Regions from separate parts of the Homo sapiens genome. Here region 2 is linked to region 1. A link means that fine-mapping ties the variant in region 1 to the expression of a gene that starts in the linked region. Tissue or cell type: whole blood. Region 1 holds a variant in brackets; the other region holds the start of a gene. All regions are shown on one strand. Distances are from middle to middle.

Evidence for each region. PIP is the estimated chance that this variant, and not a neighbour inherited with it, causes the effect.
Region 2: it holds the start of CD37, and the variant in region 1 is fine-mapped to the expression of CD37 in whole blood (TOPMed, PIP 0.98).

The regions. Positions count from the first base shown.
Region 1 is chr19:49,277,147-49,285,247 of GRCh38, forward strand. No RefSeq gene overlaps it. Among named protein-coding and RNA genes, the nearest start is that of MIR4324, 28 kb to the right of the region's middle. The variant A/G (reference allele first, on the strand shown) is at 4,064.
Region 2 is chr19:49,331,160-49,339,260 of GRCh38, forward strand. CD37 (CD37 molecule) reads left to right here and starts at 4,247. Exons shown (of 8, transcript NM_001774.3): 1 at 4,247-4,450; 2 at 4,555-4,627; 3 at 5,750-5,874; 4 at 5,988-6,062; 5 at 6,766-6,870; 6 at 7,541-7,777. The coding sequence starts at 4,382. It also overlaps a transcript of SLC6A16 not described here. RefSeq lists enhancers at 2,322-2,401, 2,672-2,941, 3,798-3,867, 4,358-4,477.

The DNA of each region.
Region 1 (8,101 bases):
TGACATTAATAAGATAGAAAATAAAGTAAAAATGCTAAGTAAATCCAAATGCCACTTGTGAATCTGATTGAGAAAAAGATAAATAAAAATAACAAAATGTAAAAAATGAGAAAAGAGACACAGCCATCAAATTTAGAATTTTAAGGACATATGCTATATGAAATCCTAGGTCAACAAATCTGAAACCTTAGAGGAAACTGAAAGTGTCTGGCAAATGTAAATTACTAAAAATAATCCAAGAATTTTGGGGAAAATTAATGGAAAGGGTTGGAAAGATGAGTAGAGATTTACTGCACAAATGGGCTCTGGGACCAGATGGGTTCAGAGATGAGTTCGATTTAACCTTTAAAAAGCAGATGGTTCTAATGTCAATTACACCAGGCTGCTCAAAGTGTGGCCCACGAATCCTAAGCATCACCTGGGAGTGTGATAAATGCAAATTAATGAACCTGAATCCAGATTCACCACATAAAAATCACTAGCGGGCGGCCGGGTGCAGTGGCTCACGCCTGTTATCCCAGAACTTTGGGAGGCCAAGGCGGGCAGATCACGAGGTCAGGAGTTCGAGAACAGCCTGGCCAACATGGCGAAACCCTGTCTTTACTAAAACTACAAAAATTAGACAGGAGTGGTGGTGCACGCCTGTAATCCCAGCTATTCGAGACGGCTGAGGCAGGAGAATCGCTTGAACCTGGGAGGCGGAGGTTGCAGTGAGCCGAGATCGCACCATTGCACTCCAGCCTGGGTGACAAGAGCAAGACTCTGTTTCAAGAAAAAAAAAAAAAAATCACTAGAAGATGGGGCCCAACGATCTGTTTAACCAGCTTTCCAGGTGACTTTCAGCATACTAAAGTTTGAGCAGCACTGGCTTAGGATCACAGAAAAAATAAAGAGCGCCTCAATTTACTTTCTGAAGCTAGCATAACTTTAATGCCAAAATTTATAAAAAGTAGAAAAAAACCCCTCATTTACAAAGACGAGATGAACAAGCTAAATATTAGCAAGTAGAATCTAGAATATATCAAAAGGATAATACATTACACCTAAGTAGAATTGATCCCACAAGGAGAGTTCAATATTTAAAATTCTATCAACAAGTCCACTAAATGCTAAAAAGCCATTTGGCAAAATGCGGCAGTTCTATGAATATACTAAATATCATTGAATTGTAAACTTTTTTTTTTGAGACGGAGTTTTGCTCTTGTCCCCCAGGCTGGAGTGCAATGGCATGATCTCAGCTCACTGCAACCTCTGCTTCCCAGGTTCAAGAGATTCTCCTGCCTCAGCCTCCCAGGTAGCTGGGATTACAGGCACCCAACACCATGCCCGCCTAATTTTTGTGTTTTTAGTAGAGGTGGGGTTTTGACATATTGACCAGGGTGGACTAGAATTCCTGACCTCAAGTGATCCACCCACCTCGGCCTCCCGAAGTGCTGTGATTACAGGAATGAGCCGCCATGCCTGGCCGAATTGTAAATTTTAAATAGGTTGATTGTGTGGTATATGAATCACATTTCAATAAAGCTGTCACAGAAGACTATCTTAGGCCTCTGGACAAAAGGGAGCTTGGGAGTGTCTGGTAGACATCTCTGATAGCAATAACTTTCCTTAACCCTACCCTTATGGCAGATACACCTGACAGCAATAACTTAAGCTGCCTCTGAGAATGAGGGTTGCCACGTAGAGGTTGCTAGGGGAGGATGCTAAGTGAAAGTGCCCTATGAACTGCATTTTTTTTTCTTTTTTTTGAGACAGAGTCTCGCTCTGTCACCCAGGCTGGAGTGCAGTGGTACCATCTGAGCTCACTGCAACCTTGCCTCCCAAGTTCAAGCGATTCTCCTGCCTCAGCCTCCCAAGTAGCTGGGACTACAGGCGCCCGCCACCATGCCCAGCTAATTTTTATATTATTAGTAGAGACGGTTTCACCATGTTGGCCAGGCTGGTCTCGAACTCCTGACCTCAAGTGGTCCACCTGCCTCAGCCTCCCAAAGTACTGGGATTACAGGCACGAGCCACCGAGTCTGGCCTGAACTGCATGCTTTTTGCAAATGGTTGTAGTTCTCCTGTCCAGTCCACCACCACTGGCCCATGCTGCAAGTTCCCCCAAATAAGCCCTGTGTTTTGTGTGCTGGCTCTGGGTCTCTTCTTCAGCCTCTTGAACTTGGTGCCATGGCTACTGAAGTTAACAGGCATTTGGCACGACAACCGATGATCCCAGCAGGAGGTTGGAGAAAATCCTGTGCACGCAGAGTCGATGGGATTGGAGAGGAGAATATCATCGGGGGGCATCTCGGGCTGGCTGTCCACGTCTGTGTGGGGCCCAACAGCCACTATCCTTGATGGATGAGGCCCAAGGCATGGGTACAGAGATGCCCCCAAAACACTGAAGGGTCTGGAAGAGCTATTGCAGGAGGTGGATCTAACTAAGCAAAAGTTAGATGCCTGAGCTGTGGCAGCTGCGGTTGGCTGGCCACTCCTGACTGTGCTCTGAGCAGCCTCGGGGGCCGGGCTCATGGCGCAGGTGAAGGTGCATCCATTACAAGATGAACTGCGATGACAAAGAGATGCCTAATTAGATCAGACTGAAACATCAGAGACCGACTGTCCTGCCTGCAGGCACGGGATGACAAAATGGAGAGACCCTGGCTTGTCAGGTATGGTCCATTTGAAAAGCTGCTGGCTGCTATGTCAATGAGTTAGGGCCCTCATGACTAAATCATCCTGGGACCCTAAGTTCTGGGACCCCATGGAGAGCTCTAGTGGGGAAGAGAGTGAGGCCTGGGATGAGCTCATGGAGGTGCCCATCCTCTCTGCACGTTTGCTGGTCAACACCAAGATGAAAGCCGACCAACCACAGACATAGGGGGTCACCCTGCAAGACTTGCCCCTGCCTGGAAGACACCATAGTGCGGGATTCCACGGCTGTGGAGTTGGTGGAGCTGGGAACTAGGTTCAGGAAGAAGGGCAGAGAGTCGGTCACAGGGTGGCTTCTCTGTCTATGGGACATGGAACAGAGATGAGTGAAATGGCATCCATCACCAACCATCCAGCCCTGAGGCGGTGCCTCGATGGCACCAATAATGACGATCGGGCCACCCCCTCCTTAGCCGGGTGGTTGCAAGCTGCAAGGCAGCCTGGCCAAATGAAAGGAATGTCCCAGCTGGGTGCAGTGGCTCAGGCCTGTAATCCCAGCACTTTGGGAGGCCGAGGCAGGAGGATCATGAGGTAGGGAGTTTGAGACCAGCCTGGCCAATATGGTGAAACCCCGTCTCTACTAAAAATACAAAAATTAGTCGGGTGTCGTGGCAGGTGCCTGTAATCCCAGCTACTCGGGAGGCTGAGGCAGAAGAATCGTTTGAACCCGGGAGGCGGAGGTTGCAGTGAGCTGAGATGGAGCCATTGCACTCCAGCCTGGACAACAGGGCGAGACTCCATCTCAAAAAGAAAGAAAGGAATGTCCCCACATCTCCTTTGTGATGACAGATTATGGAGGAATTGAGGGACATCCTCTGGGAATTAGGGGTGATGCTTGCTATCTACACTGAGCATTACCGAGGCCCTGACAAGGAGCTTTTCACTGCGGGCATGAGAAATGCCATCTTACAGTAGGCACACTACCAATGGTGTGGCACACTGGCGTCTATCTTGAGTCCCTTCATAGGAATCACTTGAACCTGGGAGGCGGAGGTTGCAGTGAGCCAAGATCGTGCCACTGCACTCCAGCCTGGACCACAGAGTGAGACTCCGTCTCAGAAAAAAAAAAAAAAGGCAAAAAACCAAGAATGCATCCAGGAGGCAAGGTGGCTTACGCCTGTAATCCCAGCACTTTGGGAGGCTGAGGTGGGCAGATCACGAGGTGAGGAGTTCGAGACCAGCCTGACCAACATGGTGAAACCCTGTCTCTACCAAAAATACCAAAAGTTAGCTGGGCACCTGTAATCCCAGCTACTCTGGAGGCTGAGGCAGGAGAATCGCTTGAACCCGGGAGGTAGAGGTTGCAGTGAGCCGAGATCGTGCCACTGCACTCCAGCCTGGTGACAGAGTGAGACTCCATCTCAAAAAC[A/G]AAACGAAACAAAAAAACAAGAATGTACAGGCTGTTCCCAGCGGATACTGGAGCTGAATGCACTCTCGTATGTGGTGACATCCGTGGTTCCAGTGGCCTATAACAATAGATGGTCGGTGGGGGCGGGGGTCGTGAAAGTCAGACAGGTTGAGCTAGTATTACAAGTTAGGAGACTGCTGCCCAAACCCTATTTAGTATACAGAGCTCCTATCCCAGATTACATCTTGGGAAGGGCTGTCTCATCAGGACTGTGACCCTCTGAATTGCGACTGAGTTAGGATGGTGAGGCGCGTGATCAAGGGGAATGCGAAATGGACACCAGCACAGCTGCCAGCCCCTCTGTGAATAGCAGCATTGAAACGACAACACCTGGCCGGGCGCGGTGGCTCACGCCTGTAATCCCAGCACTTTGGGAGGACGAGGCAGGCGGATCACGAGGTCAGAGGATCCAGACCGTCCTGGCTAACACGGTGAAACCCTGTCTCTACTAAAAGATACAAAAAATTAACCGGGCGCGGTGGCGGGTGCCTGTAGTCCCAGCTACTCCGGAGGCTGAGGCAGGAGAATGGCGCGAACCCGGGAGGCGGAGCTTGCAGTGAGCTGAGATCGTGCCACTGCACTCCAGCCTGGGCGACAGAGCAAGACTCCGTCTCAAAAAAAAAAAAAAAAAAGAAAAGAAAAAAGAAACGACAACACCTGCCAGGAGGTCATGATGAGATCATAGGGACTGAAAAGGAAAGAAGTCTGGGTAGACATTATAAGACCAGTGAACAGCCCATACAATAGCCCTGCATGGCCCATGTGGATGCCTGATGGGACACGGAGAATGACATATTACTGGGAGTTCAACAAAGCCGTCCCCCTAATGTATGCAGCTGTTCTCATATCGCCTCCTTTCTTATGAGGATAAGAGAGGGACTGCACGCACCTCATTTTGTCATTGCATTCACCTGGTATATTAGTCCGTTTTCAAGCTGCTATAAAGAACTGCCCAAAACTAGGTAATTCATAAGGGAAAGAGGTTTAATTGACTTACAGTTCAGCATAGCTGGGGAGGCCTCAGGAAGCTTACGATCACAGCAGAAGGCAAAGGGGAAGAAAGGCACCCTCTTCACGAGGCCGGGCGAAGGGGGGAAGAGCCCCTTATAAAACCATCAGATCTCGCGAGATCTCACTCCCTGCCACGAGAACAGCATGGGGGAAACCGCCCCAATGATTCAATTACCTCCACCTGGTGTCTCTGACACGTGGGGATTATAGAGATTTCAACTCAAGACGAGATTTGGATGGGGACACAAAGCCTAACCCTAGCTGGGCGTGGTGGCGGGCGCCTGTAATCCCAGCTGCTCAGGAGGCTGAGGCAGGAGAATGGTGTGAACCTGGGAGGCGAAAGTTGCAGTGAGCCGAGACCACGCCATTGCACTCCAGCCTGGGCAACAGAACGAGACTCCCTCTCAAAAAAAAAGCCTAACCTTTTCACCTGGGAAGGAGAACAATATACCTTTACTGTCTTGCCGCGGGGATATTTCCATAGCCTCACTATCTGTCAACGCCTAGTGGCCACAGACCTCAGTAGATGGACTACCCTGGAGAGGGTACATGTTTTCCTTTACATTGATGTTAAATTCTGAGTCTTTTGCCAGCTAACTTCTGAGTCTCTATAGCCCTCACCTTGCTGTCTCACTTGGTTAACAGAGGATGGGCGGTCAATGCAGACAAAGGCAGGGTCCAGGCTTATCAGTCCAATACTTGGTGTCATCTGGTTGGGTAAGACTAACGGTGTTCAATTTGCCATTCTACATATGGTGCAGGCCTACCCACATCCTACACCACCAAAGTGGCTGCAAACCTTCTTAGTTCTTCTAAGGCCGTGGTGTCCTTTTATTTCCCATTTGGCTCAACTCCTTAGGCCACTGTACCACTTAGTCAAGAAGGGGGCCAACTGGGACCAGTGGCAAAGGCAAGGACACAAACTTGTACCTTTAGGATTCTGGTTCCAGCTATGGAAGGGGACTGAAGTTACAGTGTCAGGGAGCTATAATTCTGCACTACGTGTTATGCCTTACAGCAAGTGGAAGATGTTCCAAAGGGGTTCCCATGCTAGTACATACCCAGTACCCCATAGTAGGTTAGCTGGGATTACAGGTGCCCGCCACCACGCCCACCTAATTTTTGTATTTTTAGTAGAGACAGGGTTTTGCCATGTTGGCCAGGCTGGTCTCAAACTCCTGACCTCAGGTGATCCGCCCACCTTGGCCTCCCAAAATGTTGGGATTACAGGCGTAAGCCGCCACGCCCAGCCAGCCTGTGCATTCTTAGGTGACCAATATATAGTTAGCTAGCTCTATATGTGGCCGCCAGTCTCCAGACACTCAGCCACCATTGCTCTTATCGGGATCCTGAGGCCTTAGCCTTTATCCTAGTCGAAAGTAGGACACCTTCCAGAAACCAAAATCTGGGAATGCCCAGAAACAGATTGTGGCCAAATGGCACGCATGCCTGCAACAGAGGAGTACACGAACTAGCACAGGGTTCCGTTTGCTGCTTGGCCCTGTCACCTATGTGACAGCTGAAGGACAGTCTTTGACAAGGCACTGAGCCTCCACATATTCCCTCCTTTATATAAGAGGGACAGGCCCCAATTCCTGACCAGGCCTGGTACACAGATGGCTTGTCACGAGGCAATCCTTCCACCTGTATCCAGCTGTCCACTGAGAGTATCTGGCTCGATACAGGCAAAGGACATGTAGCCAATGGGCTGAGCTGCCTGGATGGTTTCTTCTAGGAGCCGGACCCAACAGTCCTGTGCACTGACATCTGGGCACCATCTTTAAGGGGCCCACCATGTGCCTACTACAAGGAGAAACACAGGATTGGATGGTAGCAGGCAGCCCCCTTTGGGGGGCTGATATAGAAGAACATTCTCCACTGCACCTGGGGGATGCATGTAACAGTCTAGCGTCTGGATGCCCACACTGCATAATATCCCTATTGTCTTACTCCAGCCTCATGTGACACTTTGTAGAGAGGGGGCCAACCTATTTGGTATTGCAAACCAAGCACCAGGCCACTCTCGGGGTGATGCTGTCTCAGAAGGACACAACTTCCTGTTTCTTGTAAAATGACCATGAGGCTGGGTGCAGTGGTACATGCCTGTAATCCCAGCACTTTGGAAGGCCGAGGTGGGTGGATCACCTGAGGCCAGCAGTTTGAGACCAACCTGGCCAATATGGCAAAACGCCACCTGTACTAAAAACAAAAAATTAGCTGGGCATGATGGCGGGCGCCTATAATCCCAGCTACTTGGGAGGCTGAGGCAGGAGAATCGCTTGAACCCAGGAGGCGGAGGTTGCAGTGAGCCGAGATCCAGCTACTGCACTCCAGCCTGGGCAACAAGAGTGAAACTCTGTCTCAAAAAGAAAAAAATGACCATGACTTGCCCCTTCTTGTACTCACTAAACATCTCACTTTTCACCCATAGATGGTATGCAGCAAACCTCTTGCCAGCTGAGCACAGACGGTGGTCTCTCTCCAGAACAAAACAGACTGTTGGGTCTGCAGAGAGCTGCCCCTCTCCTCCACTGCGGGCCTGCCGTGGTGCCTCGCAGCAGTTAACCTGAGTACCTGAAGCCACTTTTATATTCATTATTTTTTCTGTTGTAGTTTGTATTGCTGCTGTGGTGTCTGGCTGCAATGCTCCTCCGCATACCTGGCCCCAGGGAAATGGTGGAAGAACGGTACAAGAATGTGAGGGCCATTCAAAGGTATGCTAGAGTGGCCAGGTCGCAGTGGCTCACGCCTGTAAACCCAGCATTTTGGGAGGGCCGAGGCATGTGGATCACTTGAGGTCAGGAGTTCAAGACAAGCCTGGCCAACATGGTGAAACCCCATCTCTACTAAAAATACAAAAATTAGCCAGGTGTGGTGGCACATACCTGTAATCCCAGCTACTCAGGAGGCTGAGGCAGGAGAATCACTTGAACCTGGGAGGCGGAGGTTGCAGTGAGCCAAGATCGCACCACTGCACTCTAGCCTTGG
Region 2 (8,101 bases), 54 kb after region 1:
TCAGTTTCTGGTAGCTCCTGGTGTTCCACTTTTTTTTCCCCTGTAGGGTCTTGCTCTGTCATCCAGGCTGGAGTGCAGTGGTGCAATCACGGCTCACTGCAACTTCGATCTCCCAGGCTCAAGCAGTCCTCCCACCTCAGCCTCCTGAGTAGCTGGGACTGTAGGTACATACCACAAAGCCCAGCTAATTTTTTTGTTAATTTTTGTAGACAGGGTCTCACTATGTTGCCCAGGCTGGTCTCGAACTCCTGGGCTCATGTGATCCTCCTGCCTCAGCCTCCCAAAGTGCTGGAATTACAGGCATGAGCCACCTCACCTGGCCCATAATAATGTTTTGATATATATAGTGTATGCAGTAACAGGTATTCTATTTGTAGTTGTTAGGATGTTTAAGGTTAGCTGATTTAACAAACAACCGTAAAATCTTAGTAGCTTAATACAACAGGTTGTTACTTACATAAAGTCCAAAATGCTTTATGTAAGTCCAAGGATAATTCTCAGCTTCCTGCAGCCAGTGAGTGAAGGGAGAAAGAGTAAGGATTATGGAGGACATTTCAGGCTGAGTCTAGAAATGGGCTGTGTCCCTTCTGCACCCATTCCATTGGCCCAAGACCAGTCACATGGCCTCAACTTCACTGCAAGGAGACCTGGGAAATGAAGTCCTCCTGTGTGCCTAGGAAAGAAGAAACCAAGTTGGTGAGCATCAAAGCTGCAGTGAGCCGTGATTGCACCACTGCACTCTGCCACCTACCCTTCGACTTCTGGTTAATCATGTACTCATCTCTGAGGAGGGATCAGTGGGTGGGAAGGAGGGATTGGTGTATTAGTCTCCTATGGCTGAAATAGCAAATTACCACAGACTTACTACTTAGAACAACAGAAATGTATTCTCACATGGTTCTGTAGGCCAGAAGTCCAAAATCAAGGTGTCACCAGGGCCACACTCCCTCCAGAGGCTCTGAGAGAAAATCAGTTCTTTGCATCTTCCATCTCCTGGTGGCTCCAGGAGTTCCTTGGCTTGTGGCTGTAGAACTCCAATTTCTGTGTCTACCATCACATGGTGCTCTCCTCTTCTGTGTCTTCTCCTCTGTGTGTTTCTTAGAAGGACACTTGTCAGCCGGGTGCGGTGGCTCACGCCTGTAATCCCAGAACTTTGGGAAGCTGAAGTGGGTGGATCACGAGGTCAGGAATTCAAGACCAGCCTGGCCAAGATGGTGAAACCCCATCTCTACTAAAAATACTAAAATCAGCTGGGTGTGCTGGCAGGCGCCTGCCTGTAATCACATTTACTCGGGAGGCTGAGGCAGAGAATTGCTTGAACCTGGGAGGCGGAGGTTGCAGTGAGCCGAGATCACACCACAGCACTCCAGCCTGGGTGACAGAGCGAGGCTCTGTCTCAAAAACAAAAACAAAAAACAGACACTTGTCATCAGATTTAGGGGTCACACAGATAATGCAGTATCTTGAGATCCTGAATGTAATTATACCCGCAAAACCCTTTTTTCCAAATAAGGTCACCACAAGTTCTGGGGATTAGGACATAGACATATCTTTTTGGAGAACGCCATGCAACCCACTATAATCAGCTATAATTATTTTTGTAGAAAATGATGGGAACCTGACTTAGGATGGTGGCCTTGGAAAGAAGTGGCTGGGTTTGCAATGTACTTTAATGGTAGAGCAGAGAGGCGTTGGTGGTGGTTAGAAACAGAAGCTGAGGGGCTGGGCGCAGTGGCTTACACCTGTAATGTCAGCACTTTGGGAGGCCAAGGCAGTTGGATCACTTGAGGTCAGGAGTTCAACACCAGCCTGGCCAACATGGTGAAACCCTGTCTGTACTAAAAATACAAAAATTAGTCAGGTATGGTGGTGCATGCCTGTAATCCCAGCTACTCTGGAGGCTGAGACAGGAGAATTGCTTGAACGCAGGAGGCAGAGGTTGCAGTGAGCCATAATCGTGCCACTGCACTCCAGCCTGGTCAACAGAGTGAGACTCCATCTCAAAACAAACAAACAACAACAACAACAAAAACCTGGGTGTGGTGGCTCATGCCTGTAATCCCAGCACTTGGGGAGGCCGAGGTGAGCGGATCACTTGAGGTCAGGAGTTCGAGGTCAGCCTGGCCAACATGGTGAAACCCCGTCTCTACCAAAAATACAAAAATTAGCCGGGCGTAGTGGGTCATGCCTGTAATCCCAGCTACTTGGGAGAATGAGGCAGGAGAATCGCTTGAACCCAGGAGGCGGAGGTTGCAGTCAGCTGATTGCACCACTGTACTCCAGCCTGGGCGAAGAGTGAGACTCTGTCTCAACAACCACCAAAAAAATAAAAGCTGAGGGATGAGGCAGGTGGTGACTCAGCGTTTGGATACAGAACTGTGTGGCTCAGGACTGGGTTTCAAAAAGACCCCTCTGGGGCTATGTGGGGGACAGACTGGAGGGAGAAACTAGAAGCCAGGGAGAAGCCTAAAGTCAGGGTCCAGGTAGGAGAGCAGGAGCCCAGAGCCTGCCTGAGCCCTCAGGACAGAGAAGAGGGGTGGAGTGGAGACTCAGCAGGCAGGAGGGATCTGGCTAAGAGACTGATGCGCTGTTGGGGAAGAGGGGACAAGATGGAGCTTTGACCTCATGACTAGATAGATGGTGGGGCTGCCTCAGATGAGGAAACCAGGTGAGAGAATTTGGGGACATCAGAGGAAACTGCAGAGGCCACTGGGTGTGCACCTGCAACCAGGCACTGCAGACCCAGATCTGACTGTCAGGATCCCAGGCTCAGTGCCTCCTCCTCTGGGGCCTCCGCTCCTCGGGCCCCACTGCAGAGGCAGGAAGTACCGCCTGATGCTCAGCTTCCGCTGGGGGTGTTGGCACGGCCCAGCGCCCTCCCCACTCCCAGGGACCTTCCCACCTCGAGCCTGTAGCACTTTCACTTCCCCAGGTACCCAGCCCCTGCCCCCAGCACCTGGGTGCTCCCTGGTCCAGAACAGGCTGCAGACTCTGAGAGGCACAAAAACAAGTGGGGAAGGGGGAGACAGAGAAAAGAAGACAGGCTGGGCACAGTGGCTCACGCCCATAATCCCAGCACTTTAGGAGGCCAAGGCAGGAGGATCACTTGAGCCCAGAAATTTGAGACCAGCCTAGGCAACACAGTGAGACTCCCATCTCTACAAAAAATGAAGAAAATTAGCCAGGCATGGTGGTGTGCACCTGTAGTCCCAGCTACTTGGGAGGCTGAGGTGCAAGGATTGCTCGAGCCTGGGAAGGTTGGGGCTGCAGTGAGCTATGATCGCACTACTGCATTCCAGCCTGGGCGACCCTGTCTCAAAAACAAAAACAAAAGAGAGATGAAGAGAGAAAGGAGGAAGGACCCAAAGAAGGGGCCAGAAGCAGAGAGAGGCCAGGCACAGTGGCTCACGCCTGTAATCCCAACACTTTGGGAGGCCAAGGCAGGAGGGTCGCTTGAGTCCAGGAGTTCCAGACCAGCCTGGGCAACCTAGTGAGACCCTATCTCTGTTTTTTTTTAATTAAATATAAAAAATACAACACTCCCACTCCATAGCAAGACCCCATTTCTACAAAAAATACAAAAATTAGCCAGGCATGGTAGTGTGCACCTGTAATCCCAGCTACTCAGAAGGCAGAGGTGGGAGGATAGCTTGAGCCCAGGCTACAGTGAGCTGTTTTCCCCACCGTACTCCAGCCTGGGTGAAAAGTGAGACCCTGTCTCAAAAAGAAACAAATATATAAATAAAATAAAGAAACACAGAGAGAGGGAGGATAGAGACCCCAGGAGGCAGGAGGACAGAGACCCAGAGGAGGGAGAGACTCTGCTGAGATAAGGGGACAGAGATGGGGAGTAGCAGGAAGGTGGGGACAAAGACCCAGAGAGGAGGAACAAGAGACCCAGGGCAGGAAATGGGAGACACAGCTGGATGCAGAGATGGGAGAGCTTAGCAGGCCATGAGGTCAGAGTGTCTGTGAGGTCAGCTGCTGTCCAGGGTCAGCCCTGAGGTCCCCATGCCCAGAGGTGGGTTCCAGTAGATCAGGGGTCCCTTTAGATCCCCCAGCGCCTGAGACATGGAGACCTGGGAGGGACTGCCCCATGAGTCCTTGGTGCCCACAAATTCCAAGGCCCCTCAGGTACCAGAGCATGTGTCCCAGTGGAGCAGGTGAGGGAGACAGGGACAGAGAGAGAGACAGAAAGCCACCTTACATGAAGCGGGAGTGGGTGGAGCCCCACCCCTGGAACTTCCTCTTTTGGGGTTCTTCCTTTCTCTCTCAGCTCTCCGTCTCTCTTTCTCTCTCAGCCTCTTTCTTTCTCCCTGTCTCCCCCACTGTCAGCACCTCTTCTGTGTGGTGAGTGGACCGCTTACCCCACTAGGTGAAGATGTCAGCCCAGGAGAGCTGCCTCAGCCTCATCAAGTACTTCCTCTTCGTTTTCAACCTCTTCTTCTTCGTGAGTTGCCTCATGGCTACCCAGCCGGGGCCCAGCCCCTGCCGCTAACCCAGCCCTCATCTTCCCCTGTGGCCCACCCCCGTATCCGCATCTCCTCTCCCCAGGTCCTCGGCAGCCTGATCTTCTGCTTCGGCATCTGGATCCTCATTGACAAGACCAGCTTCGTGTCCTTTGTGGGTGAGGGGGGCTGGGGCAGGTGGGAGGGCCTCCCCCAACCCAAGCAACTTCCTGGGGTCTCCCTTGTCTCAGGGAGACCTACGGTGCCCTACTCTGCAGGCAGGCTACAGGCTCCCATCCACTGCTCACCGGAGGCTTCTTGGAGCCTGAGTCTTCTTCCGGCAAATGGGGTTGTGCATACAAACAACAATGATCATGAGAGCCATTTCTCAAGCACTTCCTATCTGTCGGGACTTGTGGCTGGTCAGATGCCCCCACAAACCTTCCCCTCGCTTGAGGTTCAGAGAGGGGAAGCCCCTTGATGGATGTCATACAGCAAGGACGTAAAAGAGCCAAAATAACATTAATAATAGGAAAATAATAATGAAGTATGACCCTAAATAATAATGAAATATAACCCTAAACGCTCATATTTAAGAAGTCTTTGCCCTGTGTTGAGGACTGGGTTGAACACATGTCCTCATGTGTCTCTCAAAATGACCCTAGGGGCCGGGCGCGGTGGCTCACACCTGTAATTCCAGCACTTTGGGAAGCCGAGGCAGGTGGATCACTTGAGGTCAGGAGTTCGAGAATAGCCTGGCCAACATGGTGAAACCCTGTCTCTACTCAAAAATACAAAACGTTAGCCAGGCATGGTGGCACATGCCTGTAGTCGCAGCTACTAGGGAGGCTGAGGCAGGAGAATCACTTGAACCTGGGAGGCAGAGGTTGCAGTGAGCCGAGATCACATCACTGCACTCCAGCCTGGGGGACAGAGCGAGGCTCCAACTCAAAAAAAAACCCTAAGAAATAGATATCATCTCCTATGCCTCAGGGAGGTTTAAGGAGCCAAGCCAATGTCACAGAACAAGTGATAGGGCTGAAACTACTGGGGACGAGGAGGAGCTGAAGGAGGAAGGAGAGGGTAAGAGGAAGAGAGACAGAGATCCAGGGACGGGAAACAGGCCCAGAAAGAAGAGAAAGTTTCAGAAGGAAACAGGGACTCAGGGTGGGGCAGGGACAGAGTCCCAGAGAGAGGGGCACCAAGATACTGCTCCCCACTTGGGTGGCTGCCTAGGTGGGAAATGGGGCTGCCTGGAGCTGTGCCACACAGCTCATCATCACTCCCCTCACCTCTCCCAGGCTTGGCCTTCGTGCCTCTGCAGATCTGGTCCAAAGTCCTGGCCATCTCAGGAATCTTCACCATGGGCATCGCCCTCCTGGGTTGTGTGGGGGCCCTCAAGGAGCTCCGCTGCCTCCTGGGCCTGGTGAGTGCACCATCCCTCTCCGTCCCTAGGAACACTCCTATCCCCACCCTCAAAAATGGCCTGGGCCGGGGTTGCAGGGGTGGTCAGCCTGATCTCTCCACTCTGCTCCCCAGTATTTTGGGATGCTGCTGCTCCTGTTTGCCACACAGATCACCCTGGGAATCCTCATCTCCACTCAGCGGGCCCAGGTGAGCTTCCTGCAGTGGCCACCACCCACCCCCAGCAGGGAGGAGAGGGAAGGGAGTGGTGGGAGAGGGTGGAGAGAGACCGAAACAAGGGCAGACAGGGGCTAACCTAGATAAAGAGAAATAAGAGGCTGGGCCTGGTGGCTCACGCCTGTAATCCCATAATCCCAGCACTTTGGGAGGCTGAGGTGGGAGTCCAGGAGTTTGAGACCAGCCTGGGCAACATAGTGAGACCCCATCTATATTTAAAAAAAAAATCCGGGTGTGATGGTGTGCACCTGGGGTCCCAGCTACTTGGGAGGTCGAGGTGGGAGGATCACTTGAGCCAGGGAGTTTGAGGCTACAGTGAGCCATGCACTCAGCCTGGGTGACAGAGTGAGACCCTGTCTCAAAAAATAAATTAATAGAAAGACACACCGACCTGGACCAAGGGAGACAGGCATAAACAGCTCCAAAGGGAAACACACGGGAAAAAGAGAGAACAAGAGAAAGAAATAGACGCCCTGAAAGAAGAGACAGAGACTTATGAGCCGTAGAAATAGTGGAAGAAACAGAAAGACAGACCTGAAGTACACAGAGCTAGCCATTCAGTAAGGATTTGAGACTGGCCCAGAGATGCACAGGGCCCGCCTGAGGCTGGCACAGCCTGAGAGGGGGAGGGGTGGGGCGGGGAAGATAAGGCCCAGCCTCACTGGTGGCCTCTCAGCTGGAGCGAAGCTTGCGGGACGTCGTAGAGAAAACCATCCAAAAGTACGGCACCAACCCCGAGGAGACCGCGGCCGAGGAGAGCTGGGACTATGTGCAGTTCCAGGTAAGCCCCCCTCCTCCAGTTCCCTCCCGGACTGACCCGCCTCAGCCCTGTGCTTGGAGGAGACTCCACCCCAACGTGGGCCCGACCCCCAGCTCTACGATCCTAACACACCCCAATCCCTCCCAGGCCCGACGCTCCCCACTCCCCAGATGACACAACTGTCCCCGGCGTCGCCTGGTCTCCCAGTACCCAGACCCTGGCGTGGCTTCGCCATCTACCTCGAGAGACTCCGCCCCCGCCCCCGCCCCGACCAGAGGTTGTCAGGCCCCTAGTCCCAAGACCCTAGCGAGACACGGCTTCCTACCCCGTAGTGACTCTGGCTTCCACCGGACCCCGCCCCCGATGAGACTCACATGGTCTCGCACTCCTATTCACCTGTCGGGTATCAGAGGCTCAATTGCACCACCCACCCAATCTCTAGTCCACAGCGCGACCCTGCAGCTCCTTCCCCAGCCCCAGGTCACCCCGTGACTCGTCTTTCCCAGCCCCATGTTCCCGTAATGTCCCCTGGCTCCGGCCCCATCGTGACCCCAGCCCACTGTCCCCCACTCCACACCCACCACTTAGTCCCCTGCTCCCCGACCTGACCTCATACCCATCACCTTGTCCCCTGATCCCCAACATCATATGTCTCCAGTCCCGGTCCCTCTGACTCGTATCCCTCTCCCAGCTGCGCTGCTGCGGCTGGCACTACCCGCAGGACTGGTTCCAAGTCCTCATCCTGAGAGGTAACGGGTCGGAGGCGCACCGCGTGCCCTGCTCCTGCTACAACTTGTCGGCGACCAACGACTCCACAATCCTAGATAAGGTGATCTTGCCCCAGCTCAGCAGGCTTGGACACCTGGCGCGGTCCAGACACAGTGCAGACATCTGCGCTGTCCCTGCAGAGAGCCACATCTACCGCGAGGTGGGCAGGGGTTCGGAGCATAAACCTGTCGAATGGGGCGGGGCCTGCGGGAGGGGGAGGGCTGTCAGTGAGTAGCGGCCTGAGAAAGGGCGGGGTCTACGAGAAAAGGAAAGGTACGGCAGGAGGGGCGGGGCCCTCTGAAGGGGGCGGGGTCTGCAGGAAGGGCAGGGCCTAAAGAAAAGGCTGGGCTGGCTCTGGAATACAGATGTCTAGGGAGGGGCCAGGCTTGGAAAAGGTGAAGCGAGGGTGCACTAGTAAGGAGACTAGAGTGCCCTGGTGACTAGGGGAGCGGGTAGATGCCTGAAGACGGTGAGGGTTGGCCTG